Linked DNA regions of Homo sapiens: region 1 is linked to region 2. The links come from fine-mapping of genetic effects on gene expression. A gene starts in region 2. The other region holds a variant in brackets. All regions are shown on one strand. Distances are from middle to middle.

Region 1 (2,915 bases), 6.4 kb before region 2:
GCGATTCTCCTGCCTCAGCCTCCCGAGTAGCTGGGATTACAGGCATGCACCACCACACCCGGCTAATTTTGTATTTTTAGTAGAGATGAGATTTCTCCATGTTAGTCAGGCTGGTCTTGAACTCCCGACCTCAGGTGATCCGCCCACCTCAGCCTCCCAAAGTGCTGGGATTACAGGCGTGAGCCACTGCGCCTGGCGAGAGCACACTTTTTAAAAGGGAGGGAAGATTGGGCCTTTGAAAGCATCTTGTTTGGGCCCTCAAAGAATATAGACTTTATTTATTTACGATGGAGACTTGCTGCAACCTCTACCTCCTGGGTTCAAGCAATTCTCTGCCTCAGCCTCCCGAGTAGCTGGGATTGCAGGTGCCCGCCACTATGCCCAGCTAATTTTTGTGTTTTTAGTAGAGACTGGATTTCACCATCTTGGCCAGGCTAGTTTTGAACCCCTGACCTCATGATCCACTCACCTCGGCCTCCCAAAGTGCTGGGATTACAGGTGTGAGATGCTGCGCCCGGCCTAAGAAAGTAGTCTTTATTTCCCTTCCTGATGTGGGAAATCTGAGCTCCTGATATGTGTGTACTGGGTCTGGATCCTGGATTCTTAGGAGTGACCCGGATGTTCTGGAGGCTGTCCAGGGCCTGGGAGCAGAGGCCTCACTGCCCGTTGCTGAGGCCTGACCTCTTTGTTCAAGCAACCCCTTTGCCAAACCACCTTAGGCTACAGCACCAGGCTCCGAGAAAACCTTGGATCAAGATATTAAGAGAATAGTTCTGATACCTACCTCCCTTTCCTTTGGAAAAAGCCCAACTTTATGGACCTTTTAGGAAATATGGGAGGGGAAGGCCCATAATGTAACTTGGGCAGGAGTAGGGGGTGGGGGCGAGATAGAGGAGAATTCTTAGGGTTTTGGTTCTTGACTCTAAGTCAGTCTGTTTTTGTACTTGTGTCTTTTAAGCTTTTCCACATGTGCCCCAAGGGCCCATCGGTGAGTGTGTTTTATAAACTGGAAAAATGAATAAAAATAAGACCCAGAAGGGAAACACCAGAAGGAGTGTGAAGGGAAAAGTGTTAGTTCCTCTGTACCTCCCAGCTAGGCCTGACCTGCATTTGTGGGGGTCCCAGGGTCAGGCTTATTTGGCTTTATGGGTAAAATGTGGAGTCTTTGCTCAGAGAAAGCCTGATCAGTTTTTGTACTTGGCCTGCTCCACTCAGCATTAATTAACTTCAGGAAAGTAAAAGGTGATTCTTTTTTATTTGGCTATCTGGCTCCACAAACCTTGCTGGCTTCCTGTCCCATAGGTGCCGGATTGAT[G/A]GAACCTCAAATGTGTAAAGTCTTGCACAGGAAACCCCCCAGCATGGCCATTCAGAGGCTCTCAACTCCTGCTGGACCCAAACACAAGAAACCAGGAGGCCCAGACCCCGTCTCTCATTTTGCACCTCAGTAAACAGTACCTCGAAAGAGAACTCCATTTTCTTTTCTTAACGTTCTTCAGCTAAAACAAGAGTGTAGGGAAGGGGCTACTTGGAAAAGAGATTCTCTAAATTGCCTGAAAAATCGATCACAACCCAAGAACCAAGTATTTTGAAACACAGCATATTTAGGAAGTTTGAGGAAGCTTTAAAATATCTCCAGAAGGTTTGTGTTTAGCCCAGCACGATGTCTGTCTTGTGACCCAAAGGTTTATCTTCCGAACCTTACTTGAGCAACTTCATTAATAAAAACATTTTTGAGAATGCACATCTAACACGTATATACTTATTATAACTTTTGTACACATACTGTTGAACTAATATGTTCTGTTTTTTTAAACAGATACATATTAAATATGTATTTTTACATATTAACATTAAACAAATACATTAACATTAAACAATGTATTAACATTAAACAAATACATATTAAATATGTATTTTTAAAAACACATATCTAAACACAAATTTAAAAATTGATACCGATGAAATAAATATTTAAAAATAGGGCTGGGCGCGGTGGCTCATGCCTGTAATCCCAGCACTTTGGGAGGCCGAGGTGGGTGGATCACCTGAGGTCAGAATTTCAAGACCAGCCTGGTCAACATGGTGAAACCTCATCTCTACTAAATATACAAAAAATTAGCTGGGTATGGTGGCGGACACCTGTAATCCGAGGTACTCGGGAGGCTGAGGCAGGAGAATCGCTTGAACCCAGGAGGCAGAGGTTGCAGGGAGCCGAGATCGTGCCATTGCAGTCCATCCTGGGCAACAAGAGCAAAACTTTGTCTCAAAAAAAAAAAGATTTTGTCTATTAACTATCTGAAACCCTTTTTGTTCTCATTAAAATATATTATTATTAATCAAATTTCTAGTGAGAGCAATGGGATTGGATAGGCATGATTATTTTTAAAAATCTTGGTATAATACTTTGTGGCACAGTGAGTCAAAAGCCTGGCTCTGATTTTCAATACTTGGGCGATTATAGCTGAGAAAGATATATGAGACATATAAATCTGAATGGAAGAAGGGAACTAACTGGACTCTCATTTCTGATTCTTGGCCACTGTGAAGGCACAGGTTTTCATCTGTCACTATGTGCTAAAAGCAAACCAGCAAGTGAGGGTGTCACTGTCAACTGCTCCTTGTCGTGAGATTCCCACCTTTCCCTCAAGACATCTCAGATATCATATGTAACCTTGACCCTGTGTCCCACAGCAACAGCGGTCATTGAGTGTAAAGCCTTTTCCTTGAGGATTGTGGTAGACAGAATGCCCCCCAAAGGTGACTATGCTTGAATCCATGGAAACTGAACATGTCACCTTCTATGGCAAAAGGGACTTTGCAGACGTGATTAAGGTTAAAGACCTTAAATTAGAGGGAGTACCCTGGACTATCCAGGTGTCTAATCTAATCCCATGAGACTTCAAATGCAGAGAGCT
Region 2 (2,915 bases):
GGTAAGGAAAGGAGAGGAATGGAACTGGGGCAGGAGTGCATCAGTTACAACATTTTATCTCTTAAGCTGCTGGTGGGTTATATATTAATACTTACATTTTGGATGTCTAAAGTATTTTGTAGTTTCAAAAAAAAGTAGAAGACAAACTTCTCACCTCCTAGAAAACCCATAGTAGGTATTATTATGGCTCCCAGTTCACAGTCAGGTATTATTATAACCTACAGTAGGTATTATTATAACCTAGCCCAACCCAGGTTGCCAAAGTTCTATCTCTCTCTCTCTCTCTCTCTCTCTCACTTTCCACGAGGCAGGCAGCCCCAGGCTCACAGGCCAGCAGCTGAGATGAGAAGACATGGGGTTTTTCAATGACTTCAGCAGACTGTACCGGGAGGATTTGGCTAACTGGGCTTGGATCACTGGCCCCTTCCTGCCGGCAGCCCTTCCTCAGATGAGAAAATTCACAGATGAGAAAGCGAAACTTAGAGGGTGCATGGATAGTGAATGCTGGAAGAGGATTAACCTCAGGACCTTCCATCCCAGCACCTCTGGAGCACTGGCCTGCGTTGCCAGTGCTCTTCAGGCCAGCTGGGGGGAAGGGACTGAATGCCAATCTGCTCTGGGATGAACATCTGCCTCCAGGAGACAGTTGTTTAATGAAATTTCCCACCCATGTGATTAGCATCCTCTGAGAGTGAGATGAGTAAAACAGGCTACCACCATCAACATCATCTCTGACTGCACTGCCTAGACAGTAATAACACCCAAGATTTTTAGAGCTTTCTGTTTCTCAAAGTCATGCCCACTGATTCACTCAGGAACCCGGCAGGAAGCAAGGCAGTCCTTGATTGCCCATGTCGTTGAGATGGTAAAAGGGGTATTCTGAGCAACTGTTGAGTTCTTTTACATCCCTGGGATGGCATGGTCACAAAGGCCAGACACCGGGCCTGACTTCAAGGTCACTGTGGCTGCACTACTGAGTGACTGTGGACAAGTCTCACATTCTCTTGAAGACTCAGGAGCCTCCTCTGTAAAGTGGAGATGATAATTATTTCCCACCGCATGGGTGTGTTGTGGGGATTAAATGAGATCATACAAGTGGAATGCTGAGCACCAGTCCAGGAAGGCGAGGGGCACGCCCTACATGTCACCTACTGGATCATTGCTGTTTTCAGGGTTCCTATTACCCAAAGATCCACCTAGAATTCTTCCCCTGAGTGCTGTTCATCTTCGTCAAGGCTCAGCAATGTTTTGGATGATTCTCCTTTGACATAGCTCTGGTGCTTGTTAATACTAAATGTTTTCCAGCTTACCTATAAGGAAACTGAGTCTTAGGAAGCAATTGCAGGGCCTCTACTTTGTGCATGAGAATGAGTGACGGCTGGGGAAACCTGGGATTTGGCCTGATGTTCAAGCACTGGCACCTGCCTGCCTTTTCTCTGTAAACATCTGACCCTAGAATGCTCCACCAGGGCGAGACCATCATCACCAAGCAGCAGCTGCATGGTATTTATCAAAGGAGGCGTGGTTTCCTTTGCTGTGGCTCTCCGCATTCGTGGCAGTTATTCATTTTTGAAGCAGAGGTCACTTTTCTTTCACTGGTGAGGTACTTTGACAAAGACGAAGAAGGGAGACAATGGTAATGATGGTGGAGTCAGGGGGAAGTGGGGATGGGATTGGCATTGGGTTTGAAGGCTGACAGTCAGAGGAAGGGGAGGGACTGAGGATAAAATACTTGCTGTGCTCATGTTGTCCAAGAGTTTGCATTCTCTGGTAGTCAGTGATCAAATGAAGCAGGGAGTTTCGTGTTCAAAAGCAGCACCTACAGGTTCTTTATAGAGGCTTGCCAGAAGATGAATGCCTTGGCTAGAATTTGTAGGCAGGCTTATTTAAGTTACAAGTGACAGACACTCAAACTAATAATAAACAAAAAGGGAATAATTGGCTCATGTAACTGGGAAGTGCAGAGGAATATGGGATACAGGAACAGCTGGATCCAGGGGTTGGCACCAGGTTGTCAGGGTTTTTTTTTTTTTTGAGACGGAGTCTCGCTCTGTTTCCCAGTTCAGTGGTGCAATCTTGGCTCACTGCAACCTCTGCCTCCTGGGTTCATGGGATTTTCCTGCCTCAGCCTCCCAAGTAGCTGGATTACAGGCGTGTGCCACTATGCCCGGCTAATTTTTGTATTTTTAGCAGAGACGGGGTTTCACCATGTTGGCCCGGCTGGTCTTGAACTCCTGACCTCAGGTGATCCACCCACCTTGGCTTCCCAAAGTGCTGGGATTACAGGTGTGAGCCACTGTGCCCGTCCCAGGTTGCCAGGGTTCTGTCTCCCTCTCCCTCTCTCACCTTCCGTGAGGCAGGAAGCCCCAGCTCACAGGCCAGCAGCTGAGATAAGAAGTCATGTCCTTTTTCAATGACATCAGCAGACTATACCAGGGAGGGTCTGGCTAACTGGGCCTGGGTCATTAGCAGCCCTGCCTCAGGAGAGGAGCTATCTACTATGCAACACAGGGCAGTACAAGCCTCGGTTCCTCCCTGTCCACCTAGTCATGAAAATGAGGATGGTTTTGGTGGTTAGCATGTTCCCTCTTAACTTGCCTCAGCATCATCTGCAAAAACTAGAAAATATAAGTGTGCATATTTTTAGCTGTTTTTAAATTTGTAAAACTGGAAACTGTTAAGATATTTACTTAGAACAAGAAAACCTACTGTGCCCTGAGTGAAGTTCACTTAAGCTGCCTCACAGTTACTCCTTGAGTCCTCACTGTCCCGCAGTCTCCTTTCCGCTGAGTTGGGGTGAGTTCTAACTTCAATTTTGCCTGTGAATGTAAATCAAATCTGACCTCCCGTCTCCAGTACATCAAGGGTGTACTCACAGGGACCTAGAAAATATTATATATGGTCCCCTAGAGCTC

Evidence for each region. PIP is the estimated chance that this variant, and not a neighbour inherited with it, causes the effect.
Region 1: its variant is the best candidate, but not a certain one, in a credible set for the expression of MIR4432HG in whole blood (TOPMed, PIP 0.89).

The regions. Positions count from the first base shown.
Region 1 is chr2:60,396,449-60,399,363 of GRCh38, reverse strand. LOC102724142 (a long non-coding RNA gene) reads left to right here. Exons shown (of 2, transcript XR_007086327.1): 2 at 2,548-2,915. Among named protein-coding and RNA genes, the nearest start is that of MIR4432HG, 6.5 kb to the right of the region's middle. The variant G/A (reference allele first, on the strand shown) is at 1,316.
Region 2 is chr2:60,390,027-60,392,941 of GRCh38, reverse strand. MIR4432HG (MIR4432 host gene) reads left to right here and starts at 1,567. Exons shown (of 2, transcript NR_132992.1): 1 at 1,567-1,636.